Linked DNA regions of Homo sapiens. The protein of the gene in region 7 purifies or fractionates together with the protein of the main gene of each other region. This does not show direct contact. Each region holds a gene or a part of one and is shown on either strand. Other genes may lie near its edges.

What was found.
Region 1: the proteins of KIAA1191 (region 7) and RCBTB1 purify together in Homo sapiens (co-immunoprecipitation; one large-scale study listed by IntAct). This does not show direct contact.
Region 2: the proteins of KIAA1191 (region 7) and FBXO22 purify together in Homo sapiens (co-immunoprecipitation; one large-scale study listed by IntAct). This does not show direct contact.
Region 3: the proteins of KIAA1191 (region 7) and FAH purify together in Homo sapiens (co-immunoprecipitation; one large-scale study listed by IntAct). This does not show direct contact.
Region 4: the proteins of KIAA1191 (region 7) and RNPEP purify together in Homo sapiens (co-immunoprecipitation; one large-scale study listed by IntAct). This does not show direct contact.
Region 5: the proteins of KIAA1191 (region 7) and LMCD1 purify together in Homo sapiens (co-immunoprecipitation; one large-scale study listed by IntAct). This does not show direct contact.
Region 6: the proteins of KIAA1191 (region 7) and UBE2Z purify together in Homo sapiens (co-immunoprecipitation; one large-scale study listed by IntAct). This does not show direct contact.

Annotation. Positions count from the first base shown.
Region 1 is NC_000013.11:49,582,567-49,587,227, reverse strand, and holds the start of RCBTB1 (RCC1 and BTB domain-containing protein 1), read left to right. Parts: upstream 1-1,669; 5' UTR 1,670-1,784; intron 1,785-4,661. UniProt on the Homo sapiens protein: May be involved in cell cycle regulation by chromatin remodeling.
Region 2 is NC_000015.10:75,906,618-75,910,547, reverse strand, and holds part of FBXO22 (F-box only protein 22), read right to left. Parts: intron 1-3,930. UniProt on the Homo sapiens protein: Substrate-recognition component of the SCF (SKP1-CUL1-F-box protein)-type E3 ubiquitin ligase complex that is implicated in the control of various cellular processes such as cell cycle control, transcriptional regulation, DNA damage repair, and apoptosis.
Region 3 is NC_000015.10:80,151,616-80,156,170, reverse strand, and holds the start of FAH (fumarylacetoacetase), read right to left. Parts: upstream 3,173-4,555; 5' UTR 3,117-3,172; coding exon 3,036-3,116; intron 1-3,035.
Region 4 is NC_000001.11:201,999,518-202,003,445, reverse strand, and holds part of RNPEP (aminopeptidase B), read right to left. Parts: intron 3,545-3,928; coding exon 3,431-3,544; intron 3,396-3,430; exon of another isoform or gene 3,119-3,395; intron 2,071-3,118; coding exon 1,958-2,070; intron 1,788-1,957; coding exon 1,679-1,787; intron 323-1,678; exon of another isoform or gene 210-322; coding exon 1-209. UniProt on the Homo sapiens protein: Exopeptidase which selectively removes arginine and/or lysine residues from the N-terminus of several peptide substrates including Arg(0)-Leu-enkephalin, Arg(0)-Met-enkephalin and Arg(-1)-Lys(0)-somatostatin-14.
Region 5 is NC_000003.12:8,571,132-8,575,061, reverse strand, and holds the end of LMCD1 (LIM and cysteine-rich domains protein 1), read right to left. Parts: 3' UTR 394-3,930; downstream 1-393. UniProt on the Homo sapiens protein: Transcriptional cofactor that restricts GATA6 function by inhibiting DNA-binding, resulting in repression of GATA6 transcriptional activation of downstream target genes. Represses GATA6-mediated trans activation of lung- and cardiac tissue-specific promoters.
Region 6 is NC_000017.11:48,925,407-48,929,556, reverse strand, and holds the end of UBE2Z (ubiquitin-conjugating enzyme E2 Z), read right to left. Parts: intron 2,594-4,150; coding exon 2,423-2,593; 3' UTR 501-2,422; downstream 1-500. UniProt on the Homo sapiens protein: Catalyzes the covalent attachment of ubiquitin to other proteins. Specific substrate for UBA6, not charged with ubiquitin by UBE1. May be involved in apoptosis regulation.
Region 7 is NC_000005.10:176,348,403-176,351,933, forward strand, and holds part of KIAA1191 (putative monooxygenase p33MONOX), read right to left. Parts: intron 2,336-3,531; coding exon 2,211-2,335; intron 1-2,210. UniProt on the Homo sapiens protein: Potential NADPH-dependent oxidoreductase. May be involved in the regulation of neuronal survival, differentiation and axonal outgrowth.

The DNA.
Region 1 (4,661 bases), on a different chromosome or scaffold from region 7:
CCACTTCATTCAGTGAGTATTAAGGGTCTATCACATGCCAGGCGCTGTTCTAAACCCAGAAGAATCCTGTTTCAAAGAGTTTATAATCTAAGGGAGAAGACAGCAATAGACAATTCACCTTTTACAGGAAATGCGCAGTCTATTTCTGGGCAGTGTGAGGTGTATCAGAATATATATAGTATTCTGGAAATCAGGGAAGAAGTTGCAGCTGACACTGTCTGGATGAACTTCAATTGCTAAAAAATCAGGGAAGAGGATGCTGGGAAGACAAGAGTAGGCGGCATTTGACCTGGATTTTGAAAGATGAGTAGGAAACTGATGTGTACTTTGGAGGCTGTTGAAGAAAACCAGAGCCAAACAGTAGTTGAAGTGGTAAAAACATTTTATTCAGGAACTAGTGCAACAGGAGCGAGACCTCAGAATAGATACAGAACTAAGCTCAATTCTCTTATTGCATTAGTTTCTTAATACCTTTTTTTTTTTTTTTAATCATTGGCCCTGGTTTTCTTTAAGTGGGGGAGGTGGTGATTCAGGACATTTCAGATACAGACAAAAGAATGAACAAAGCAAAAAGGAGTAAAGAAACTTAGAGAAAAAGTAAATAATCCAAAGAAAGTTGAGTAGTCAAGGAAAACAAATTATTTGTAGCCAGAGCCTCCAGTAATGTTGGGGAAGTGGCAAGAGATGAGGGACGGTAGGACTTTTTTAATAATTCAAGTTACCAAAAGTGAAGTTATCTGGTGATATTTAGAAAATGAAATGTTTTTCTGTTTATTCCTAGGAGCTCAAATGGGAAAGGTAAGTGAACAAGTGGCTGGAATGCTATGCCAACAAGTTTGGATTTTATCCTGCAGCGCCAACTGGGAGTTCTCCGAGAGCTGTATGGTATTTTACAAAGGGACTGTAGTCTTTATAGGTGATAGGCTGGAGCAGCTCGTAGCAGTCCCTCTCCTGGCCTCAGTTTACTCGCTGGTAACACGAATCCGGTTGGACCAGATGCCCTCTTAGGTCCCGTCTAACCTCTATGGCATGCTTCCGAGGTACCTCTGCCTCTTTCCAATACCAGGACCTGTGCCTCATCTCGTCCTTCCTTCATACCTTTGTCCAGCTGCCACCTTCCCTAGTCCCTGGCCTGCCTCAGGTACTTTCAATCAGGAAGTGAGGGGCGGGGAGGGAGGGAGGCGCGTCTCCAGTAAAAACAAACTAGTCCCAGCTCCGCCGCCTTTCCTCCCAGGCAGCACCACCTGGGTGGTGCCCCGGGGCCAGACGCGCTCTAGAGTGGGCAGGGAGCCAAGTTTCTCGGTCGCTTTTCCGTCCTAGGTCTCTGGGGTGGTAGGCCGACCCTCCCCACAGCCAAGCCATCTCGGGGAGCAGAGCAGGAGCCCGTGCCTCGCGCGTTCCTGGTTCCTCAGACACAAAAGCCTCTAAGTCCCGGCAGCAGCCACCGGATTTCATGGGGACACTCCAGTGGCAGGGCCTCGGGGCGGGCCTGAGACGGCCAATCGGCTTCTAAAGAAGTCGGGTTGTAGGGCCCGAAGAGCAGGGTTTCGGCCGGGGCCGGGGCCGGGGCGGTGCGGGATGCTCGGCTGGGTAGCGTCCCGGGCGCGCGCTGCACCGGGTCACGTGAGGCGGCCGGGGCCACGTGACCCGGCGGGCCCGGCGCCCTGGCGCTCCTCCTCTTCGCTGCCGGTGGGCACCGCCGCTCGCTCGCACTTCTGCGCCCATTGGAGCTTCGGAGATCCCTGCGGTCCCGCGGGACGGCGCGGCAGCAGCTGACCTCGCAGGTAGCGTGTGGGCGCGGGGTCGAGCTCGCGGAGGCCTCTTCCCCCTCGGCCCTGCCCCTGCTTCCCTTCCCCGCAGGCCGGGCCGGGAGTGCCCCGTTACTCCTGTACCTCCCGCCTCCCTCGCTCGGGCTCCCGGGCAGTCCCTGCGGGCGCTGCGTCCGGGGCGAGGGATGGGGTCCCCGGCCCGGCCCCGCCAGCACCTCAGCTAATGTGCTCTCCTGCGAGGAGGAGGGAAGGATGGGGAGAGGCGAGGGAAAGTTTTCCCTGCCTCCCTCTCTTTTTTGAGGTGCACGGACTCGATTTTGCTCGTAGCTGAAGTCTGACTGCTGTGGGTGCCGTTTTACTGAGAGGAGATCTCCCCTCCGACTCTTCCTATTCTCTCTCCTTTCCAAGATCTTAGCATCTCTCCTTCGTCTCCTGAGAGTAGTGCTGTCACAAACCGTATTCTTTATCGTTTCCCTTTCCGACACAGAATCCACAAAGGCAGGGATTTTGTTAGTGAGGACTTTTATCCAGGCGTGCGGTGAACTCTAAATAAGTGACGTTTCCCTTGTCTGCCTCTGATAAAGTACCTACCTGCTCGGTTTAAGATGACTATCGAGCACGCTGTGTTCTGCTCGCATAAGTGGCCTTTTGTTTTTATTTATTTGCATGTAAGACACTTTCAAGCCATCTGCGGAACTCTGCAGCTGGGGATTACAATTTTATAAAGCAGTCTTGTAATAATGCTTTTAGAAAACCAGATTCATGATCTTCCTTGCTTTTGCCCTATTCTTTTTTTGGGAGGACTAAAAGCCCTTAGAGGACAAAAACTGAGTTTCTGAAACTGGTGTGTATTGTGGGCTAATAACATTAAAACATCAAAGTATATAATGCCGGAAGGAATGGAAAAATGATTGAATCCTGAGGGCAGTTTATAGGTGCTTTAAACTTTAGAGTACTCATTTCAAGTGAGCACTGGGTGAATTTCACCCGTTTAAACTGCTTTCAGGGTCGAGGATGTAACTGTATATTTGGATTCTATTAATATAACAGTTCATCTGTGGGATGGACTTTAATCCATTTAATCCATTGTGTGAATATCAGTCTATTTATTAATACTCTAGACGGGTCCTTTTTCTTCTACCCGCTAGTCTGTTTCTCTTGAAGAGGAAGCATATTCATCTTTAAAGAGATTTTTGCAAGTGATTTTTTTAAGTGTGTGATCCAAATGATAAAGTTCTGTGAACTTCAGAAAACAAGTAGCCATAAAAACCCAAAGCTGTCAAGCTTGTAGCTTTTAAAAAATGATTTGAAAATTTTAAAGCGTGCCCGTATGCTGCAGCAAGAACTTGGCTCCACCTAATATACGGGAGCTGGGAAGTCTGAAACAGTACCCTCCTTTTCCTGGGAGTCATTGTGGGGTAGATGAAACTGTGAAGGAAAGTGAGGACCTTTATTATGATGATGATATCCCTTCTGTGTGTACTACATTAAACAGTAAGTCATGCATAGGAAAGGAGGCTGGGGCCTCACAGAGTCTAGAATCTAGGCAGGGCATTCGGACACATTTCAAAATATTCTCTGGTTTTACAAAAAGTTAAAAATGTTACATATTGGCCAGGCGCAGTGGCTTACATCTGTAATCCCAGCATTTTGGGAGATTGAGGCGACAGATTACACGAGGCCAGGAGTTCAAGACCAGCTTGGCCAACATGGTGAAACCCCGTCTCTACTAAAAATACAAAAAATTAGCTGGGCGTGGTGGTGTGCGCCTGTAGTCCCAGCTACTCAGGAGGCTGAGGTACGAGAATTACCTGACCTGGGGAGGCAGAGGTTGCAGTGAGCCGAGATTGTGCCACTGCACTCCAGCCTGGGCGACACAGTGAGACTCCATCTCAAAAAAAAAAAGTACATGTTGTGTACGTGCTGAAGAATGCACAAGAGGGGTATGATGAGTGTTGTCTGAATTTAGCCAGAATAGACTTAGTAGAGGAGATCAGTTAATGAAATAATTATATAAGTCAACTGTGTGTTAGATCACATTTAAAACACACACACACACACACACACACACATACACAAAAGCACACTTCTTTCCTGGGGTAGAAAAGCTCACAGAGGAGACCAGATGGGTACCTCTAAAGACTTACGGTCTCCAGCTTTCTCTGGGCTTGGTCTTACCATCCTGCTAGGTTTCTCTGCTCAGTGCTCTTTCCCATCCTCCCTGGTGACTGCTTCAGACTTCACCATTTTACCCCCAATTGCTCCACTCCACTTTTTTCTTTTTGAGACAGGGTCTCACTATGTCGCCCAGTCTGGAGTACAGTGTGCCATGTGATCATAGCTCACTGCAGCCTCAAACTCCCAGGCTCAAGTGATCCTCCCCACTCCCAAGTAGCTGGGACCACAGGTGCGCACCACCACATTCGACTAATTTTTTTATTTTTTGTAGAGACAGGGTCTCCCTATGTTGCCCAGGCTGGTCTTGAACACCTAGCCTCAAGCAGTCCTCCCGCCTTGGCCTCCCAAAATGTTGGGATTACAGGCGTGAGCAACCACACCCGGCCTCCACTCCACTGTTTATTGCTACCTCCCCTCTTACTCTTAGCAAAAAGCCTAACTCTTTCTTCATAGGGGAAAAATAGGTGACCTCAGAAGAGAATGGTCTCCAAATGCCAATCAAAACCATGAGATACCACCTCCCATCCACTAGGATGGGTATAATACAAAAGACAGTAAATACTGGAGAAAGCAGCACTGTTGTACATTGCCGGTGGGCATGTAAAATGGAGACTCAGCGGGGAGAGAGAATGAGAATGAGAGAATGAGTATGTCTCCAGCATCTGGATTCCTAACCTTTAAACTGGCTTTCATTCACATTCACCCTTTCCTCCT
Region 2 (3,930 bases), on a different chromosome or scaffold from region 7:
ACAAACATACGAAAAGAAGCTCATCATTACTAGTCATTAGAGAAATGCAAATCAAAACCAAAATGAGATACCATCTCATGCCAGTTAGAGTGGCGATCATTAAAAGGTCAGGAAACAACAGATGCTGGAGAGGATGTGGAGAAACAGGAACACTTTCACACTGTTTGTAGGAGTGCAAATTAGTTCAACCATTGTGGAAGACAGTGTGGTGATTCCTCAAGGATCTAGAAAGAGAAATACCATTTGGCCCAGCAATCCCATTACTGGGTATATACCCAAAGGATTATAAATCATTCTACTATAAAGACACATGCATATGCATGTTTACTGCAGCACTATTCACAATAGCAAAGACTTGAAACCAACTCAAATGCCCATCAGTGATAGACTGGATGAAGAAAATGTGGCACAGATACACCATGGAACACTATGCAGCCATAGAAAAAGGATGCACTCATGTCCTTTGCAGGGACATGGATGAAGCTGGAAACCATCATTTTCAGCAAACTAACACAGGAACAGAAAACCAAATGCTGCATGTTCTCATTCATAAGTGGGAGTTGAACAATGAAAACACATGGACACAGGGAAGGGAACATCACACACCAGGGCCTGTCAGGGAGTGGGAGATTAGGGAAGGGATAGCATTAGGAGAAATACCTAATGTAGATGACGGGTTGATGGGTGCAGCAAACCACCATGGCACGTGTATACCTATGTAACAAACCTGCATGTTCTGCACATGTATCGCAGAAATTTAAAAAAAAAAAAAAGTATCACCCCATCCAAACTGCTGGTACCCTACCTTCTTTCAGGTCAATGTTGGCATTCTGAGTCAATCTACTTCTCATTTACTTTTCACTCATGCTCTTTCATTTTCAGTTCATTTACTAAACACCTATAATTTCTTCATTCCAGCCCTCAAAAAGTTCATTTTCATAATGATAACTGAAGCTCTTAGAACAAAAACATCAAGTACCAGCAAAAGATGCACTTGCTTTATTTGAACAGGCATCACAGTATCAGAAAAATCTCAGCACTGGGGAAGGTATACAGGCTGTATCACTCCCTTTTCACTGCTTATCAAATCAAATACTCCAAGCCTCCATTTCCAGGCTTGCCAGCAAGGCTTCCTTCAGGGCCCCTTAGCTTACTATTAATATTATCCAGACACACCGACTTCCCCATATGTTCTATTGCTCTGTTCTTGTGGAACTTAAGACTGTTTCCCTCTAGAGACACCTTAAGTGCCACCTCCTCTCCAAAACCTTTTCCTAAACTCCCTCAGTACTCTGGACCTCAGATGCAACATCCCTTACCCCTAGTTAATCTTATTTGTCCCCTATCTCCCCTATGAGCTGGGCTTATTCAGACTCACCTGTTTTCAACTAAACTTTCCAATTGAAGACAAGCGGCAAAGCAGCTGAATTAAATGAAAAGGATGATATATTTTTCCAAGCTAGCTATTTTCAAATATTTTTTACTACCAGAATAAAATGAAGTACTTAGGATATAGCAAAGCCTCATTGTTAGTTAAATGGAAAAAAAAAGTTGGTCCATTATAATTTGAGGGAATGCCAAGATGTTTCAGAATACATTCTACATAGATAAACTAATAAAAGAGACAGATAGCATGATGGCCTGTGGGGCCCAGGGCTGCCCAAGACCTACGGATATAGTTTCCTTGGTCCACACAGCATTTTCAGAAAATGTAAACTGAATGCCAATGTTCAAAATTCCACCGAATTTTTACATAAAATGTGGATTTCCAGATTCTTTTTAAAAACTGGACATTTTGGCAACACTTAGACTACGTGCCTCTTAACTAAGGCTAAACGGAGGCAAGCCTTTCCAGACTGCCATGGTGCTACGACTATTGAGCTACCTGACCCTCTTCAGCTACCTGCCTGACCTTCGAGTCATCTGAATCTGTGATGCCTGGTATAGTGAGTAAAGGAGACAGAAAAAGAGATTTACGGGCAAGGCACAGTGGCTCACGCCTGTAATATCAGCACTTTGGGAGGCCACGGTGGGTGGATTGCCTGAGGCCAGGGTGAGACCAGCCTGTCCAACATGGTGAAACCCCATCTCTACTAAAAATACAAAAAGTAACCGGGTATGGCTGCATGCGCCTGTAGTCCCAACTACTCAGGAGGCTGAGGCAGGACAATCACTTGAACTAGGAAGGTGGAGGTTGCACTGAGCCAAGATCGGGCCACTGCAATCCAGCCTGGGCGACAGGCGAGACTCTGTCTCAAAAAAAAAAAAAACCAAACAAAACAAAAAACAGATTTAGGTCTTAGTGGCAACTCTGCCACAAACCAGCAGAATAACCCTCAGCAAGCTTTTAGGCCTCAGGTTTCTTACTCCTGAACAAGTATTAAAAGTCTGGTCCTGAGAGTTTATGAGGCATCCACTGAAAAGCAACTGCTGAATTTTCCTTCCTAATTCACACTAGAAGTAGTGACATAACAAGCCTCAATATGAAATGTTCTCAAAGCACAGTTAAGACAGCTGACACCACATTCCACTGTTCAAAGAAGTTACAAATGGCAAGCTGTTTTATAAAGCTTTTGGTGGACTTTAAAAAAATTTTTTTTTTTTGAGACACAGTCTCACTCTTTATCACCCAGGCTGGAGTGAAGTGGTGCAATCTCAGCTCAAGCAAACTCCATCTCCCTGGTTCAAGCGATTCTGGTACCTCAGCTACCCAAGTAGCTGCGATTATAGGTTTGCACTAACATGCCCAGCCAACTTTTGTACTTTAATATTTTTATTTATATATTTGATATTTTTAAATATTTATATTTTTTTAGTGGAGACGGGGTTTCACCATGTTGGCCAGGCTGTTCTCTAACTCCTGACCTCAAGTGATTTGCCTGCCTCGGCTTTCCAAAGTGCTGGGATTATAGGCATGAGCCACCATGCCTGGCGGACTTTAAAATATTTCTAATAGAAAAGTTAAATCAACTTTCTTTATGGCTATAAAAGTACCCATGTCCACTAGATAACTTGGAAAACACAAATAAACAGCACGTATGATTTGGATAGAGTTTTCATGTTTTTGTCTCACCAGCAGTTTACTACAATGGAGGAACTCCTCTAAGGGCATTACTATAACTATGTGAACTTTAATAATGATACTAATAAAAGAATATTTAATAGACATCTATTGAGAACTTATGCTCCTGGTATTGTAAGTAATGTTTATATGCATTACCTTTTCATTATTTAATCCTCACAACAACTCTATAAGGGCATAGGAAAATTATTATTTTTCTTTTTATTTTATGGAGATAGCACCTGAGGCTCAGAGAGGTTGAGTAGCTTTTTCAAAGTCACACCGCTGGTATATGCCAAAGCTATGGTTCACAACTAAGTCTGTCTGGCTATTAACAGCCACTACAATGTATAAACTCTTAAAGCTATAGAAAAATCATGCCTGCTGTGGTAAAAATTTGAAAACTTTTTAAAAACCATAGAAAACTTTTTAAAAACAGTAAATGGAAAAAAAAGCTAACATTTTGGCTTTCTTTTCTACTCTCCCTTTTTTGTCTTTAATAATTCAGATGATACTAAATATATAATTTCATAATCTGTTTTCACTTTTAAAATCAACATTTTCTCTTGTCATTAATGCATTTGCAGTCTATAATTTAATAGCTTTATTTATTAGATTAACATTAGGTTTTTAGTATCCCTTATTATAAACGATGCTCCAGAGAACACTTTCGAGGAAATCTGCTTGCATTTTGAATTTTTCCAAATGATAAACTTCTGGGAAAATGGGAAGAGTTGAGACAAAGTGCCAGAGAAGAAAAGTTTTCTACAAGCCTGCCTTTGGATACTGGCCAGCTCCCTGGAATGAGAGTTCCAGAGCCCAAACAAGGTAAGGAGAAAGACCACCCAAGGAAGGGGGAAACAGAAGAT
Region 3 (4,555 bases), on a different chromosome or scaffold from region 7:
GGTCAAGCGGTAACGCCAGTGCCTGGGAAGGCACCCATTACTTAGCAGACCGCAAAAGGGAGTCTCCCTTTCCTTGGAGGAGTCAGGGAACACTCTGCTCCACCAGCTTCCTGTAGGAGGCTGGATATTATCCAGGCCTGCCCGCAGTCATCTGGAGGCCTAAACCCCTCCCTGTGGTGCTGTGCTTCAATGGTCACGCTCCTTGTCCACTTTCATGTTCCTCCTGTACTCCTGGTTCCTCTTTGAAGTTTGTAGTAGATAGCGGTAGAAGAAATAGCGAAAGTCTTAAAGTCTTTGATCTTTCTTATAAGTGCATAGAAGAAAATGCTGACTTATGCTGCCTTCCCTCTCTGCTTCGGCTACCTTAGAGGGAAGAGCCCCCGTCCCATGATCACATGACTTGCTTGACCTTATCAATCACTTGGATGACTCACCCTCCCTACCCTGCCCCCCTTGTCTTGTGTGCAATAAATATCAGTGTGCCCAGCCATTCGGGGCCACTACCGGTCTCTGTGTCTCAGTGGTAGCAGTGCCCCGGGCCCAGCTGTTCTCTCTTTATCTCTTTGTCTTGTGTCTTTATTTCTTACAATCTCTCGTTTCCGCACACAGGGAGAAAACCCGCTAAGCCCCGTAGGGCTGGACCTTACAGATTGGGAGGCTGACAGATGTGGGGATCAACCCCATATCTGCCTCTTACTGGCTGTGAGATCTGGAGCATGATGCTTTGCCTCTCTGGACCTCAGTTTCCTCATCTGTAGAATGGGGACAATAACTTCACAGTAGGTTTATTGTGAGAATTTAATTAATATCTGTAAATCTCTCACCACAAGAACAGACACAGGGTAGACGCTATTCATGCCACAAAGATTTAGAGAGCATCTTCTCAGTACCAGCATTACACAAAGGCTGCTGAGGCCCTGGGAACAGTGACGTGGTTCCTTCTCTCCAGAAGCAAAAGGAAACACAGGGTGTGGTGAGAGATAACCAAGGCTGGGCCGCAGCGGGGAGCTCATTCAGAGAGGGTGCTTAGGAGGTGACATTTAAGCTGAGTCCCAAAGAGTGAGAAGGGGCCAAGCATATAGAGAGCAGAAGGACGAGTATTCCAGGCAGAAGGAACAACATGTGCTAAGGCCTGAAGGCAGGAAGCTGCTCTTAGCACATCTCAGAGACTCAAAGGCAGCCAATGTGGCTGGAGAAAGCAGAGGCCAGGAGGCAGCAGCACAGCCAGACCACGGGGACTTTAACAAGGCACCCGGCAAAACCAGCTCCACACTACTACAACCCCGTTCTCAGAGGCCACCACCCCTACCTTCACAGAGAGCACCCCTGTACACCTTACTAGTCCATCAACCAGAAATGGAAGGAAGGCGTCTCCTGTGTCTTTGATGCCAACTCGGAGCCCAGGCAAAATCTGGACCAGAGTTGGGGTTCATAAGCATTCGCTGAATAAAAAAAAATGAATAAAGTGATGGCAGGATTCATTGTTATTCCACTCAAATTAGGAAAGGCTGACTGCTGACATGGGGGAAGGGAGGTTTTGCCTTGGCAACTAGTCTTGCCTGGCAAGGCAGCCATCACGGTTGGAATGTCCAATGCCTGCAGAGAAAGCTTCAGAAGAGGCTTGTTCAGCTGGAAGGCCAAAGGGCCAACTCTCCACCCCCAGCACTGTATCAGAGGACAGCGGAATGGGGCTCTCTCTTCCAGACATCTGTAGTGGCTGCCCTGCACATTCTGATGTTGAAACAGCGGGACATGGTGTCTGAAAACACCTAGCCACACTCTAACGGATATTAATTCGATTCCCCTGAGAAAGCAAGTCAGAGCTCCCTACTGGGGTGTGCCTGCCTCTCACAAATGTTTCTGTCTAATGGATTTGTGCTCCCAGGAAAGGTGAGGGAGGACACATCTGCCGAGGGCAAAGTGTTTGAGGAGGGCAGAGGGAGGGCTCTGTCTGCAGAAAGGTTGTTGGCCATCACAAGTTAAGATTTAATGTGCCTCAGATTGTGTCCTCCAGGGGATTGAGTGTCCACTTTCTGTATCCTTGCAACATCTGGTCAGCCCGGCCAGATGTGAAACCACAAGTTGACTCTTCTAGACCAAAGCACTTACCGCAGACAGGCCCACAAAAGGCCAGCCACTTGCATCCAATGACAAGCCATGGGGGAAGGAGGGAACCCCACTTTCCAAGAAGAAGCCAACTGCCAGGCCCCTCGTTTAGCAAACATTTCCTGATTCTGGGGTTCTATGGCTTACAGAGATGAATCAGGAGTTTACCTTTAAAGTTGGGAGCAGAAATCTAAGCCAAAAATATCATCAACAAATCCAAGGGAATCTGCTTTTCCAACCTAGGGAACCTCTTATTATCTATTTGCTGATAAACCCCCAGTTTTCAAATACTTCTTTCTACCAATCAGACTACACTGACTTAGTCAAAGTTTGTTTCCCTGCCCTCTTTCTTCTGATCAGTAGGGGAATGCCAGGGAGCCCACACCAGGAGCTGAAAGAATTTCAGCTATAGGCAGAGACACTTGCCATCTTAGATCTCACAACTCTAAGCCAAGAAACGCGCGTGCCCCTCTGACCTGCTACGCATACCGGGTTATCATTTCCCGGGTTCTAGGGTTAGGGGCTATCCAGCGAGATGAACCACCAGCCCTGACCTGGCCTCTTGGGCGAGAGAAACACACCGCAACCACCTCGGAGTAGGCAGCATGCCTGTGTGCTGCAGCTTCCGGTAACAGAATCCTGCTTGCTCTGCTTGTCTGGGAGAGTGACACGATTCATTTCATTTTGCATTTAATTCTCAGCAAACCTGCGGACAATGAGGCTGAAAAGTTAAACAACGTGCACAGCTAGAAAGTTACGAGGCGGGACTCGAGCCCATAGGCACTCTCACGGAACGAATCTTAAGAGAAAAATGGCACAAGCCTCCATCCCGCCCCTCATTCCACTCCATTCCACTCCACTCCACTCCACTCCACTCCACTCCACTCCACTCCCTCCCCGCGCCCGGACGCCAAAGCCCCACTGCTCACGTCGCCTCTGGTCGAGAAGACGCCGTAGGGCAGGTTGTGGATGGGGAAGTCGGAATCCTCGGCCACCGGGATGAAGGACATGCTGAAGAGCACCCGGCACGGCTGCGGGCCTAAGGTGGCGTGCGGAGAGCAGGACTGAACTCGGCCGCTGTGGTCAGGCCCGGCCCCGCCCCCCTGCCCGCCCCCACGGCCTGTCCGGGTGACACAGCAGGGACCCCGGAGGCTCCTACCTGACTTTTGGTCTCACCGTGAACACCCCGCCCCCGAACCCCGAGCCCTGCCCCTCCCCCCTACCCTGACCCCCGCCAGCTCCAGGTCCTCCACAGTCTCGCCCGCCCTTCCAGAGCCCCGCCCCGCCCCTGGCCCCGCCCCCGTGGGCCTCAGGTCCTCCAGTCTCTCCTCCCTCCCTGAGCCCCGCCCCTCCCCTTGCCCCGACCCCGCGAGCCCCAGGTCCTCCACAGTCTCACCCTCCCTCCCTGAGCCCCGCCCCTCCCCTCGCCCCGCCCCTCCCCTCGCCCCGCCTTGCAAGCCCCAGGTCATCCAGTCTCTCCCTCCCTCCCTGAGCCCCGCCCCTCCCCTGGCCCGGGTACCCGAGAGTCCCAGGCCCTCCAGTCTTGCCTCACTCCCCGAGCCCCGCCCCTCCCCTGGCCCCGCCCCCGTCCTGATCCCCGCCCTGTCCGCGAGTCCACGTGGGGGAGATCTGGTTCCAGCCCCCGCTCGGGGCAGCTAGCTGGTCCTACCGAGAGCAAACCCCAGCTTAGCATTTAAGGCTCTGCCCTGCATGACTCCAGCCTCGCTCGCCCCGGCTGCTGCCCTGCTCTTCAGCTCAACAGAACTCTTGTCCGCTTCCTGGAAACACTTTCTCCCCAAGAGCTGCTCCCTGAGCTTCAGAAGAACACCCAGTCGCGTCCTTTCTGCCTTCATACCATGATGCTCCGTCCAGCTATGACACTTCCACTTGTATGTCAGAGAAGGGGACAGTTAGGCCTGTTTGGAAGGCTTCAATTAATGAGAATTAATATTCTAAAAAATATAACTCACCTGTTTCACATGCCAGTAGTAAAATGACGTTGACAAGATGCTCAACCTTGGACAAGTTACTTAAACTTTCTCTACCTCAGCTTCCTTCTCTGTATAATGTTGATGATAATAGTTCCTACTTCACAAAGTTGATATAAGAATGGAATGAATTAATATTTGTGAAGCACCTAGAATAGTGCCTGGCATATACAGGTTATGTGTGTGTGGAAAGAGAGAGAAGGGAGGGAAAAAGAGGAAAGGAGGGGAGGGGGATAAAGGAAAGGAAAGATAAAAGAGAAATAGGAGAAGAGAGAGAGGGAGAAAGAAAAGAAGGAAGACAGGAAAGAAGGGAAAGGCAGACTATCTTAGGGTGGGTTCAAGGTGTTATCTAATCACTCATGTGCAGTCAGCTGCAGTTTTTTGAGACCATGCCACAGCCAGGACACTTGGAACACACCGGAGAGTGTGTCGTTGTGTTATTGTTGGTGTGAATGATTCAG
Region 4 (3,928 bases), on a different chromosome or scaffold from region 7:
TTTCTGGAGGATCTTATCCAGGAAGTAGACCAGCTGGTAGGTCTTCCAGGGAGAGATGGCCACGGCTTCAATGGCCTTCATGTCCAGCTCCTCGGCTGCCCACAGTTGGGCTAGCTCTTCAGCAGGCTTCATGAGTGAGTCCCCAGGGGAGAGATCAGGGAGGTACGGGGGCCAGCCGGGGGTATTCAGCCATCGATCAAACTCAAAACCTGTTTGGGAGGAGAGAAGACACTATCAGAATTCTCTGGCCAGGTTACGGTCAACTGGTTTAAGCAACTCCCAGAGACCTCAAGTTTCTCCTCTCTCCATCCCAAACTCTTTCCCCAGCATTTAACATTACTTTCCCATGTAACTATTCGCTCCAGCAGGGTCCTAGTTATAACGACATCTAGAGACTGTGCCGTTTCGACCGTGAAAGTGCTTTTCGCTCCAAATTAGCACTGTGTTGTCAGAGCCAAGTTGGTGGATGCTCTATTCACGTGCACATTCTCCTACCGATCACAACCACACTGTACTTAAGCACCCAGGCTCTAGGACCAGGCTGCCTGGGTTCCTACCCCTGCTCTGTCATTAACCAGCTGGGAGGCCACGGGCATGTTACTTCACCTCTCTGCACCTCAGTTTTATCTATAAAGTGGGGGTGATAGGCCCTGCCTCCGTGATGGTTATGAGGATTACATGAGCAAATAAACATTAAAAGCTTAGCGTATCGCCTGATGCATAGTAAGTACTCTGGAATTATTAACTACCATTAGCTCCGGAGTCCCCGCATTAAAATGCAAGCCTCCAACCGAACAGTAGGTGCTGCTAAAGTCCTGACCAATCCTACTGTCAGAGGACGCGGACTTCATCAAACCAACAATAGAGTGACTCAAGGTTCAGGTCACAGCAAGAAGTGGGGGTATGTCTAATGGATTGTGTCTTCCATGACAGGACATTTTTCGTTTTTTCTTTGGAAGTGGTACCTCCCAGGCAGAAACTGGCGGCTGGGCACAGCGGCTCACGCCTGTAATCCCAGCACTTTGGGAGGCCGAGGCAGGTGGATCACCTGAGGTCAGGAGTTCGAGACCAGCCTGACCAACATGGAGAAACCCCGTCTCTACTAAAAATACAAAATAGCCGGGCGTGGTGGCGCGTGCCTGTAATCCCAGCTACTCGGGAGGCTGAGGCAGGAGAATCGCTTGAACCCGGCAGGCGGAGGTTGCGGTGAGCCGAGATCGTGCCATTGCACTCCAGCCTGGGCAACAAGAGCGAAACTCCATCTCAAAAAAAAAAAAAAAGAAAAGAAAAGAAAGAAAGAAATAAGGAGGGCCACTGGGGTTGCCTTCACTCAGAAGGCTGTAGGAGGGGTGCTGCCTCCGCTCCTGCCCTGTGAGTTTTAGCTTGGGGCAGTGGTGCGGCAGCAGTGGCAGCTCTCCAGGCAAGTTAAGGGTCTGACTGTGTGTCCAGGTGAGAGGAGAGAGTAAGGAAACAGACTGGGAGAAAATGAGGCAGAGAGGAGTGAAAAGAAGTCATTCTTGTGGAATAAATCCCAGGATTCTGGGTTTGCTTCCCAAAACGCCCCTACCTAGCTGACTCTGACCCAGTGTTTTCCCATCCACCACCATCTTTCCGAGTGTCAATGAGATCTCATTCTCTACTATTTTTTAGAAGCCTGTGGGCCAGTTCCTCTGCTTACCTGGAATGATATCCACTCTCTTTTTCTTAAGCTCAGGGAAATATTCCAAGTAGAAGTCCAGAAAGTCATCGGCTAAGATGCTTCGGAATTTGAATTCATGCACATAGGCCTGTGAGGAGGGAAAGCTCTTTAGACCCTCTCTGGCCCCGTGGGGAGTGGTGTCCCTCTGTGTCCTGGGTCCTCCTCCAACCCCTTACATCTTTCGCCCCCTGCCTCTACCCTTGATCAGGCCCAGTGGCTTTATCCGCTCCTCTTCCTTCTCCCCTCATGTGACTATACCTTGAGAAAACTGTCAAACTGATCCTGATCACCCACCAAGTGGGCCAGGTATGAAACAAAGCAGAAACCTTTCTCGTAGGGGGTCTCATTATAGGTGTCGTCCGGGTCAACGCCTGGCAGAGGAGAAAGCAGACAAGATTTGAGCTTTTGTAGCCTGTCACCCGTAACGTTCTTCTCTAGCTCCACAGTCAAAGACTAGCGATGGAAGAGATCAGAATTCAGCTTCCCCAGGGACAGCAAGGCCAAGAAGGTGTCCAGATCCTGGCCTCTCTCCAGATCTTGGACTCTCTCAAGGCCAAGACTCTCTCTCTTAAGATCTCTATCTCAAGGCCAAGATCTCTCTCCAGATATTGGCCTCTCTCAAGGTACTTCCAAGATCTCAGAGGGCCATTCACTGTGGATCTAATATGAAGACAGAGAAACCAGCCTTCCAGAGGAGCGGACACATTTCCTTAGTCCCAGGATACACTTTGTGTGGGTAGGTTCCATCAGCATTTCCCACTGAGCACCAAGCTGTGTCTTTTCCATCCCTATTGGTCACCACCTAAATACTCAACCTACCCTCCCAGATCAATGTTTTTTTTTTTTTTTTTTTAAGACGGAGTCTTGCTCTATCACCCAGGCTGGAGTGCAGTGGCACGATCTCAGCTCACTGCAACCTCTGCCTCCTGGGGTCGAGCGATTCTCCTGCCTCAGCCTCCCCAGTAGCTGGGATTACAGGTGTGCATCACCACACCCAGCTAATTTTTGTATTTTTAGTAGAGACAGGGTTCTCCATATTGGCTAGGCTGGTCTCGAACTCTTGACCTCATGATCCACCCGCTTTGACCTGGGATTACAGGCGTGAACCACCATGCCCAGCCAATGTGTTGTTTTTACAGCTGTTCCAGGCTAAAACTAATTACCCGTCTCTAAGAAATTCATCTGCAAACTTAACGGCATCAAGGAACATGAGCTTCAATTGCATAAAAAGGTTTCAGATTAGTCACACATGGAATGAAGGAAAATGTTAGGAAGTAAAAAGATCTGAATTTGGAGAGAGGACCCGGATCTCAGTTGCAGTCATGCACTGATTAGGTACATGACCTGGACAAGACACTTAACTTGTCTGGCACTCAGTCCCATCCTCTGTAAAATAAGGCTAATGCTTTTATTCTACAGAATCCACAGATCTGCCCTGATGATCATGAAGGAATGCGAAAGAGCCTGGTAAAACGATATGGACTTGTGCAAATGCAAAGCAATGGTGAAGTCATCACGAACCGCACAGACTGGACAGAACTCCTATCTGGCTGCAATGGCTTGGGTTCAGTCAGCCCAGGGGCCAGAGAATTGGCTACAAAGAGCTCTGGAGTGCCCCTCCCTCCAAATAAAGTATTCTAAGCGTGCACTGATCAACATGAAGTTCGCATTAACTTGGGGCTCCAAGCTCAATTGAGGGGAGTGGGTGTCAGACAGAGGAGCCTCCTGGACCTGGTTCAATCTTCACGCGGAGCTTGTTGAGTGGGTTTTCCTCTCCAGTGATGTCCATGTGCTGACGCAGCAGAGCCCGCCCCGTTGCAGCCTCCAAGCAGGTGTACGCAGCGCCTGGTGCAGAATCAAACGTAAGCCTCGGGAAAACGTCTGTCACCACATCCAAGTGTATTTTCCTGACAGAGACACTGTGCTGCCTCCTTGTGGCCTCAAGAAGAACAGCGACAGATACCTGAAGCTTAATAACATTACCCTCCTGGGGACCCAGGGCAAATAGGGACAGTTACAGAGAGCCTGACTCAGTCCCTAGCTCCCTGTTGCTGTGGGCTACAAAGGACTTGGTTAACTCAGGCTGTTGGTCTCTCTCCTAAGTGAGGACTGGGGGAATCGCACCTTTCTGACAGTTACCTTTCCTTATCAAAGTACTGTATTTTTATTTTATCTTATTTCATTTATTTTATTATTTTATTTTTTGAGACAAAGCCTCACTCTGTCACC
Region 5 (3,930 bases), on a different chromosome or scaffold from region 7:
TGGTCCCCTTGTGTGGGCCAAGGATGACTGCCCGTCTGCTTTCTCCCTGTCCCCTTATCAGCAGAAAATGAACTCCGCAGAGCTCTCCTGTCAACTGAGGCACACACCATTCCCTTGTAGGGCAAAGGCTTGCGATTCCTTGTAACAATATTTCATAATTTATATATTTGATTAAAAACCGGAATCTGGGCCAGCAGCCTGCATACTCTAACATGTTGGGATCATTAGCTGCTTGTGTCACTCTTCTATTTTAAAACTTTCCATATTTGAACTCATGGAAGTACATCCTTCACATTTATTAAACTTTCCCCATAAAAACAGTTTAGTAAGTCTCCATCATCTTTCATAGAATTAAAAAAAATAAGGCCAAAATAAAACCCTCTGGACATTTCCTTCAGGGAATATCATTTTATTTAGGCCTTTAAAAACATTTGCCTTATCTTGCCAGTAATTAAAAAAAATTAATACAAATGAGAATTTTAGTGGCATTATAATTACTTCAAGATGAGCTGTGCCACTTGGCTTCTCTCCTGGCTCTGCTGCAGCTCTGTCCAGGCCTCCTGTGTGAGCTTCCGTTCCCCAACCCTGCACAGTCTTAGTCTCTTGGATTCTTTGGGTCAGTTCTCTTCCAGCTTCTCCAAGATTGCTTCTTCTCCATGCTTTGCTCCTGTTGCTCTCACAGGGACTTTTTTAAAATAAAGGGGACTGCTTCATGAGATTTGGGTGTGGCTGTCTTTTCTAATCCCTCCCCCTTCCCCACAGTGGTTGGCCCACGATGAAGGTATTGCCAATCAGAGTACCCTGCCCTCTGGGCACAGAGATTGGTCAAGGGATAAGCATAGGACTGACCCTTGTTGGCTGATCAAAGTTACCCCTGGGAAGCTCCAGAAAGAGAAGCTCCTTTTTCATGGGCTCACTGGCTCCAAGGACAAAAGTGAGCCCAGCTGCCACTGGTGGCTGTGTTTATGACTATCTGGGTAAGCCTACCTAAGAATAAAGCCAGTGTGGAGGAAGACAGAAGAGAGATGGAGAAAAGAAGCAGAGACTTAACTTGTGATTTGAACTACTGCATCCAATTGTTCCTGAAGCTAGCCCTTCTTCTGCACTTTCTGACTAGAAAGCAGATTCCAGAAAGCAAAACCCCTCTCATATTTTTTCTTTTCTTTTCTTCTTTTTTTTTTTTTTAGGTTTAAACCAGTTTTAATTGGATTTCCCTCACTTGCAACAAGGAAGACCTGAATAATATTGCTTCTGTCTGTATGTCCAAATACTTTCATTTTTCAAGAAGCAATGTTATACCAACGTCAGAACAAAGGAACACTTTATGCTGATCCTTGCAGTTTCCATTATTAGAGACCCAAAGGAATCAGACCAGGAGATCGTTTTGCTTTAAACTAGTAGAATCTGACCTAAGGCAAATATCACTTGAGAAAAAGGAGAAAACACATTTCTTCCTTCAACAGCGTCATCCCCATTCTTGGCAGAGAGAGATGTGAATGACCAACAGCCATGCCATTGCATAGTTTCATCTTTCATGTAACTTTTTCATATTTGAAGCCAAACATTTGGAGCCAAAGCCTGATAACCCAGCGAGTCAAGTGCTCATGTCACTATTGCTTGTGTCTCCATGGGACAGGCTTGATTGAAAATTGCTAAGACAATATTTTTAAAATGTTCTCACCACAAAAAATAACTATGTGAGGTAATGGATATGTTAGCTTGATTTAGCCATTCCACGATGTATACATATATCGAAACACCATGTTATAGACCATAAACATATGCAATTTTTATTTGTCAACTTAAATCCAAATAAACTAGGAAGTGTAATGGCTTCAGAAATGTGTAATTCACCCAAGCTACAACATGAAACATCTTGGGTATCCGTCACATTGTTTTTGGTTATAATTGACAAAATCCCCACTAATGAAAAGCTATATGTTGAAGAAATATCTCAAAATGAGGAAATGTACCACCCTACATAGAAAATAAGAAAATCAATTGTCTCATGTAGCAAGCAGTCCAGAGGTTAGTTCACTGTCTCCATGACATAACTTAGTACCTGGGCTCTGTTTAACTCTAAGCAGCATCATGGAAAGCTTATTGGCTTGGTTCGCTTGTCTCCTTAAGGTTCTAAGATGGTACCAGGAGTTCCAACACAACAACAGCCAGATTAAGAAGGAACCCCTTGAGAATGGCTGATTTCAAAGATGGGGCAGGAAAAATACAAGATGGGTATGTAGCACGTTATTGTGCCAGATGTAAAATGTGTTTAAAGAATGATGGGCCATGTCAAAAGGACATAGCAACCAGTTTGAAGGAGCTTTCTTTGGCCATAATTTGGGACAATTTGAGCATTAAAATAAATAAGGATGGTAATCAATTATAAACTATTTAATAAAATAGAAATCAATAACTCCAAGCTGATGTAAATATGTGAATTAATAAATGGGGAGAAGATAGTGCTTTTCCTTATAGTAGAATGCTAATAAACACTAAAGAAATGATTGAATTAGAAAAACCAACATTTGGCAACTATCATAATAATAATTAGTTCGATCAGTAAACGTCAATGAATACTAAGAATGAGTGAGTGGAATTTTGATGAAGAACAGGACATTGACATAGTCTCAAAGTCCCTAAACATACTTATTAAATACAAAGGACAAAGGAATGACTTTACAATGGAAAAATCTGGCTGATACTGGCATTATCAAATGTTCAAAATTCATGTCAACAGTAATGGAACAAATCAAAATCCTGTATCATCTGATTGGATGCAACAGAAAGAAAACAACATCACTTCTGTGGTATTCCTTCCAAAAAATGCATAAGCTGAATCTAATTTCGAGGAAATATCTGACAAACCTAATTTAATGGATATTTAACTCAACAACTTTAAATAACCTTTAATCTTCTAAGATGTCAAGGTCATGAACATTCAGGAAAGAACAAAGAACACTTCCAAATTGAAGAATAGACAAGATAACTAAATAGAATGAGTGATCTTAGACTGAATGTTTTTGTTATAAAAGACATTATTGGGACAGCTGGTGACACTTGAATTGGATCTGAGGATTACATGGTAGAAACACATCAGCGTTAACTTCCTGATTTTGATGGTTGTATTGTGGCTATGTGGGAGAATGTCCTTATTTGTAGGAATTACACACGAAAATATTCAAGAGTGATAAAGCATTGTGTCAGCAACACCCTCTAATAGCTCTTTGTTCTCTTCTTGTAACTTTTTTCGTAAGTTTGACATTCTATCAAAAGAAAAGAAAACAACAGCAGGGCTATTTACTGCACAGTATCTCCTTTCATTAAGGAAAAACACTTTTCTAAGACCCTCCTAAGGCGGAAGCCCCACTGGCTGGTAATAGAGGCGCATGGCCTTTCTCCAGCTGCAGACCAGGTTGGCAAAGCCAATTTACATAAAGGGGAGTGGGCTCTTCTCTCAGTCCAGTCGTTTCTCTCCATCCTCCCTTTGTCTCCATCCCCAAAGTCATATCTCACTTTGAACATTTTCTGCTCAGACTGACAAGTCTCCCTGACAGGAACTCACCCTCTCCACCCACTGCTTCCTTGCCACTAGGAAGAAGGAAGTGGGGTGTGGTGGCAATGTGTAGGCTGCCAGCAGTGTCTACCTCAGTCTGAAATTTTTATATTTGACCTTGGCCATTTTGGAACACAGTGCCATCAGCAAAGACGAACCATCCCAGAACCCCAGGTTGTTTGTTCTTTCATTTAGTTGCCAGGATTTGTACTAAGAGTTGGGGAAATAAAGATAATACGATTATTCTTTAGAAGTTCATAGGGGAAGGCTTTCATGAATAAATAATTATAGCACAATAAAGGCCTTGGAAGAATTACTGTAAGCCTGGGATATTATGAACTTACAGATAAAGGGCACCTAAAACACCCCAAGGG
Region 6 (4,150 bases), on a different chromosome or scaffold from region 7:
CAGAAAGCAAGAATCTCCTATAGCAAGTAGAAGTGGTGATGAGGGAAGAGGCCAGAGTTGTTTAAGGCTCCCAAAGTCCTTATGGTCTAAAGGCTAAGATCCTAAAAGTGCTAGTTTAGTACTGGAAATCTGAAAACTCAATGGTTTTTCCATACTGAGACCCTTCCTTTAGCAGGATATAGCCTGGGCCCATCTCTTCCTCTGCCTATCCTTGTAGGACATGCTCACTCCAAGCTCTGGAATAGGTCTGTCTTTGGAAACCACTCAAACTAAGATGTCACTGACTGCCAGAGCATGGACCCCATTTCCAATGAGAAAACTTGTCCTGCTCTCCCCACCCAGCCCTGCCCTTCCACCATGTTATGCAAGTCTTCGGTTTCCAGACAATTCATGGCACTTTCCTTCTCCCTAACAGTTCCAGGCCTAGGTGAGGTGTGGTTGACAAGATGATCCCATTCGTCCTTTACACAAGCCCTCCCACACCCACAGGCACTTCCTCCTTCTGCCAAAACAAACTTTATTGCACCAAAAAGGAAAACAAAAAAAACAAAAAAACTTCATTTATATACAGTCAGATATAAAGACATCTCTTTGACTCCTGTGCATATATTTCCTCAACTCAAGATTAGGGCATAAAAGTCAGGCTGCTATGCCAGACATGCTCTGCCCTATGGCAGGGCCAAGGAGAGGATTGTCACTTGAAAGTGGGAACACTTAAATGGATGACAGACAACACTGGACCCACAGACCAAGAGCATTCTTCTAAGCCCTGGAGTAGCTCGAGGAATGGAAGAGGGAAATTGGAAGCAGGGTCCCTTTTCGATCTTCATGTGAAGAGACCCAGCCTCTTCAAGGGTATCCAAGATAAACTTCCGTTCCCCAAGCCCACCAATCCCTGTCCAGTTCCTTTGCTTCCTGCCCTCCCAAATAGGACATTCTCCTTTGTGCCCAGCCCCCCTTTGCACAGATCCTCCAAGGGGAGTCCCATGATCCACAAGGCAGAGACCTTCATAGCAGAGGGCAGGGCAGGTACACACTATCCTCTCCCTTATGCATGGCTGGACACTGACTGAGGCCCTGCATCACAAGAATCGCCAATACCCACTGGGAGCCATAACAATAAATCTGGAAGTACGGGGAGAACATATCAAAAAGGGGAAGGATGGATTCCCTTGATGCCCAGGATTACAGGGCACCTAAAGCACATTTTTTTTTTTCTGAGCCAACCAGCTAAAGGATCACTGCAGCTAAATACAGATAGAGAAGCAACAAAGCCAGGCAAATACCCATCAGAGACAGTGACAAGAGCAGCTGGGGGCACGGGGGAGGCGGAAGGAAGAGAAAGAAGGGGAGGAGCCTCCAGAGTCCCAGCCCCAACCCCCTCTGCCATTGGCTACCCTTGCTCCCCAAAAATCCCTGGGGTTGAAGTGAGGAGGACTACAGGCTGGGGTGAAAATACACAAGGACAGCCCAACAAAATACAACAAGGACTAGCATCAGTCTCCCCCTTACTCCACCCCCAAGAAAAATACCCTTATTGTGACTAGTATTTATGAAAATCTGTAAGAGACTATTCTATGTAGTGGCTCTAATCCCATATACACAGCAGCTGCCTGTGTTGGGAACTTTTCAAATCAGTGATTGCGGGAACAAACAGTATTTTCAGCTTCTTACGGTGCCATGCAGGCTTTACCAAGACCTTGGTTAAGTCCCAGTCACATTTACTTTCTGTCTTACATCTAGAAAAGGGTGAGGAAAGAGGGGAGGGGAGAAAGGTGCTCAGGTGCTAGGTAAAGCTTACTGATCAGCAGCCTAGACTCCACCACTGTTCCTTCTCTTTGGTCTGTCTAGAACAGTGACTATAAATTAGGAAAAACAAAATTATGCTGGCCTGTGGGAAATAATGGGGGAAGGAAGGCAGGGAGGAAAAGGGCATTGGGAAGCCCTGCTTCAAGACTGAAGACAGACAAATAGACAACCACCCAGACTGCTTAAGTGTCACAGACAGCCCCCACCCCAAGCTCCCTTCCAGGTATCCCCATAAATCATTTGGGCACACTCCCTCTTGGAATTGCAATTTCCATCTTCCACTTATCCCTAAGGAGCTGGCCCTGTGGAGAGGTGTGTTGGTTGTTTTGTTTTTGCCAAAGGCCCTCGCTCTAGGTGCTCCTGTAAAGGTACCTTGGCCCCTGATACGGGATGAATGGATGAACGAAGCCCCAGATGCTCCAGTGCCAAGGAGGTCAGACCGGGAACAGGCCCCCACTCCCACACCCTGGGATCGGAGCTTGCTTGGTTCTTGCCATCTTGCAGGATGACTTCGAGTCTGGAGGGAGATACACAGTGCCTCTCCATCCCTGGGGTGGGGGGAAGGGATTCTGCTGGGACTCTTGAGTGGGGGAAGGGGAGATGGGAGCAGGGTCTAAACCCTCAGGCTCCCATGAAGGTCTGTCTCTGTCCCAGATGAACTGCTATCAGAGTCCATTTCTGCATTCTCATTATGGAGCCTCTCCAGCACTTTCTGACGTATCAGTCCCAGGCGCATCAAGAGGGACTGGTAGTCAAAGTGGCCCCGCTTCTCTCCAAAAGGGTCCTGTGGGGAAAGGAGACAAGGGGATGGAAGATTCAAGTCTGGGTGGCTGATCCTAGAGAAAGCAACTTCGGGCCCATGTGAAATGAAAGCTCAACTTCTGAGCCATGGGAGCAGGAAGGCCTAACAGCACAGGCAGTCCCAAACAGCAGGCAAAATAACCTTTGCTTAAAAATATGACACCTGGGCCAGGCGCGGTGGCTCACACCTGTAATCCCAGCACTTTGGGCGGCCGAGGCGGGCGGATCACCTGAGGTTGGGAGTTTGAGACCAGCCTGACCAACATGGTGAAACCCTGTCTCTACTAAAAATGCAAAATTAGCCGGGTGTCGTGGCGCATGCCTGTAATCCCAGCTACTCGGGAGGCTGAGGCAGGAGAATCACTTGAACCCGGGAGGCGGAGGTTGCAGTCAGCTGAGATCGAGATCGCACCATTACACTCCAGCCTGGGCAACAAGAGTAAAACTTGGTCTCAAAAAAAAAAAAAAAAAAGACACTCTTACCGCCCCAAATAGGTGTAGCTTGGGCTAGAGTGAAAATGTATTGGTATTCCTCAAAAGCAAACCAATATCCGGAAGAAGGGACAATAAGGGTGAGATAGATAGGAATGAGAAATTCAAGACCAGAATTATAATTGTTAAGTATGCCTATGTTTTTAATTAACCTCATAAAAACCACAGAAGGTAAAAGTTGCTCTTTATTCTCTGTACTCAAAAATGGTAATCTGCTTTTCTAAGGTCAGAAGCAGGTCTAGAATTCAAGAGTTCTGACTTTCAGATAAGCACCTGTACTCCTCCCCAGGGACTCGTCACTCCATTCCCATCCAGGTTTCTGGGCATTGCTCCAGGGCCACCCAGCCTCGATCTTAGTCCTTCTTGTTCTAGATCAAAGATCCCTAAACGTTGTACAGAAAGGTTTAATTGTCCCCAAAGTCTCAAAAACAACTAGTTGAGTGGATGGTATAAAAAAGAGTTTAAAATACTATATAGGGACTTAGGCAGCAAAGCAGTGCAACAGCCCCCAAAAGGTACACAACTTTCCCTCTCACATTGTTTGCTTCTCTCACAAAAACTCCTTCCATACTTCTGCCCACACATTACCCTCATCCTGAGTGGGATGGCAGTGGATGCTAGTCACTGTCACTGGGACTACAGCCTGCACTTCTCCTTCATGAGAGTTAACTCCCTCAAGACTGAGCTCCACATTTACTACTATGGAGCTGTCAATTCTGCAAATCTTGTTTCTTTCATCCGTGGCTCCAGCTCCTCTAATGCTCCTCCTGCCCAGATGCTGTACTCCCTCCCATCCCTCATCACCAGTTGTTTTTCCTTTACACACTGATATTGCTAATGCTGTTGGATACCAGCAATTAGAATTCCTGATGGGGAACAAACTAGGACATATGTCATTGATATACTCTCAAAAAGGGTTTAGGAGACAACTTAGTCCTGAGCCAGCCCTGCCCTTTGTGCTTAAATGAGACAGGTGGGTGGAAAGTCCTTGAAAGAAGGAAGGGAAAACTACCATTTATAAGTAGCACTGGAGGGCATAAGTCATCTC
Region 7 (3,531 bases):
TTCCAAACAGATAAGTCTAGGCATAAAAAATTTGGTTCGCATTCTAACTTTAGGCAGAAGACATCTACAGGTGGAATGATTTCGGATGATCTAACAGGTAGTCCTTTGTTTTTGCCATACTAGATGGAACTCCATCTCCTTAAAAAATGTGTTCATTCTACACTATATCATGAACATCCCTGTACTTAAAGCTTTACACTACAACTTTTACTTTCAGAAACGTGAAGTAATTTCCCCACATTCCCCCAGACAGTAAAATGGAAGAGCCAGAACGCTAGCTGCCAGCCTTCTTGGCCTTTTAAGCAGGGCTTAAGCTCTTGTCTCGCTGCTGCTCCTACCATGTACAAAGCCCTGCCCATCCTCAGTCTCTCCAAGCCAATACTCAGGCATGCTGCTTCTCTCCAGCTAAATGCTTCCTCTGAGGAGCCTGTTCCATTCTCTCCTCCTTCTCTCCCATAGTCAGCCACTCTGGGTTCCCTCAGCACCGTGAGCATTCCTCTGACTCGCAGTCTAGTGGGGAGAGACAGGTCTACATCTCAGCTCTTCTAGAGCAAGGTTCCCATGCTGTTTCCTCCCTCCAGGCCTGCCACGCCACTGCTTAACCCAAGCTGCACACCAAACAATGATCACGTTTGAATTTTCTCAAACGCTCAACAGATCCATTCATGTAAGTTGACAATCTGTTACAAGATGTAAGTTACAGCTAATATTTCAGCCATCCTCATGTTCTACTCCTATGGGCAAGACACAGAAAGTGGGTCAACCAAAGTCAATCCTACCATTATATAAGGTGAATTGCTCAAATAGAATTCTCACTGACCTATCCTGGAAAGTTCTCAGTTAAGGGTCAAAGGCTGCCGGTGCCCCTCTCTGGAAGCTTCTGTCTTGTTTGAAAGCTTAAACTGGCCACCAGCCCAAACCTGATTTCCTATAGCAGTTTTTAAACCTAGCCTGCAAAAGAATCATCTGGAATGCTCATTACAAAATGCAAACAGGGCCGGGTGCGGTGGCTCATACATGTAATCCCAGCACTTTGGGAGGCCAAGGCAGGTGGATCACATGAAGTCAGGAGTTCAAGACCAGCCTGGCCAACATGGTGAAATCCCATCTCTACTAAAAATCAGCTGGGCATGGTGGCGCATGCCTGTAAATCCTAGCTATTTGGGAGGCTGAGTTGGGAGGATCACTTGAACCCGGGAGGCAGAGGTTGCAGTGAGCCGAGATCACAACACTGTACTCCAGCCTGGGTGACTGCAAACAGGCCACAGTTTTATATCCACAGTTTTATATCCCCACCCACAGGCCACCAGATCCGGGTTATTCCTCGTTATGTATAATGTATACCATGATTCTTTCCTGCGTCGTGTGCTCTCCTCACCTTGCCCTCATCATACCCTGTTCAGAACTCTTAAAATAAAGCTTGGAACAAGCCTGGATTCTGACCCCCCCTTGCCTAAAGAAGACAGCCCAAGTTTCTTAACTGTAATTGTGTCTCTTCACAATCTGCCCCTGACTTCCATATGAGCCCCTTCAGGAGCCAGATTTCCAGGCTGCTTTGGAATGAGGAGGAAGAAGCCAACAGGAAGTAAGGCATCAGGAGACTTGGGTTCGGGTACTATGACTGGCTGAATAGATGGCCTCGAACCTCAATCTCCTCATTTACAAAATATGGAGAAGAGCATCTGTCCCAAAAGGTGATTGTGAGGATGAAATGAATGCAAGTGCTTCACAATCATAAAACACTATCCAGTATGAAGCGGTCTTCACTGAAAGAAAGTCATTTGAAACTATTCATTCAAATACTTGGCTATCACTAAATTAACCCTTACCAAAATTCTTCACTTATAGAAATGAAATAGCAAAAACATTCCAATTCCACATTTGATTTTAACTTGTTCCTTTCCAGTTAAGCTGTTACCTCTGTTGAGGCTGCCCAGTTCTCCCCAAGATACTCCACATTTGCTTTATGATTCATAAAGTACTCCTATGTATATGTAAGCTGAGGCTCTCACTTGATTCTGCTAACCAGAAGTAGCAAAACAGACACCCCACTGTATAGGTGGATAAGCAAAAACTACGAGGCTAAGAGCTCGGGAGCGAGACTAACTCCACAGCCCCCAACTAACTGAGCTGGTAACTTCAAAACCACAGCCACATTTCAAGCCATGAACACTGAAGGTTTTGTTTTTTCAAAGTTCCTAAGAGCTTACGTGGAGTGCTTCGGCCACTCGAAGGTACTTGGTCTCCTCGGTGGTGAGGCCCTTGTGGGGTGTGTAGCCAGCATCTCTCAGCCCTGCCTGTCGCTCAAAATGCTGAATGCTTTCCTGGGTCTGTTCTGGGAACAGAGGAGATGACAGTCATGCCCATTCCCCTCTCCCATCACAAAATAAGGAGGACAACATGGATATCTACTATTCTCCCCAGAAGCAAGAGACCACACTGACCATTCAAAGAAGAGGAGACTTTCCCCAGAGAGGCACCACAGCAGTAATTCTGAACCTCACACAAAGGCTCTCTAGCCAGAAGGAAGCCTTCCCTCACACCAAGCTGAAGAGGTTATTCCTAAAGGGACAGCTGAAGAACCTTGAGGACAATACTCCCACCCTCCTCTTAGTTGTACATGGTGACATTTTCTTTGTATTTAGAAATGCAACATGGGGCTGGATGCAGTAGCTCACACCTGTAATCCCAGCACTTTGGGAGGTCAAGGCGGGCGGATCAAGAGGTCAGGACATCCAGACCATCCTGGCTAACAAGGTGAAACCCCATCTCTACTAAAAATACAAAAATTAGCTGGGTGTGGTGGCAGGCGCCTGTAGTCCCAGCTACTCGGGAGTCTGAGGCAGGAGAATGGCGTGAACCCGGGAGGCGGAGCTTGCAGTGAGTCGAGATCGTGCCACTGCACTCCAGCCTGGGCGACAGAGCAAGACTCCATCTCAAAAAAAAAAAAAAAGTTACATTGTGCTAAAAGAACAATGAATAAGTTTTGTAACACTGCTAGAACACATTCTCAAGCTTGTAAAATAAAAGTAGTGTTGCTGATTCAACAGATGTGAATAAGAAAATCAAAGTATAGGTGGTGCGTGATGGCTCACACCTGTAATCCCAGCACTTTGGTTGGCCTAGGCGGGCAGATCACGAGGTCAGGAGTTTGAGACCATCCTGCCCAACAGAGTGAAACCCCATCTCTACTAAAAATACAGAAATTAGCCAGGCGTGGTGGTGGGCGCCTGTAGTCCCAGCTACTCCAGAGGCTGAGGTGGGAGAATTGCTTGAACCTGGGAGGCGAAGGTTGTGGTGAGCTGAGACCACAGCATTGCACTCCAGCCTGGGTGACAGAGTGAGACTCTGTCTCAAAACAAAAAAAAAAAAGAAGAGAAACCAAAGTAAGAGTCTGGACCTTTGGTTCTTGGTGAATTCACTAGGAATTGCCCAGGACAAACTGATGCCCTCCTGGAGAAGATAAACAAGGGCTTCTGACTTCAAAAATGAGCCAACCAAGGAGAACCTCTATGTACCTTACCCTGGTAG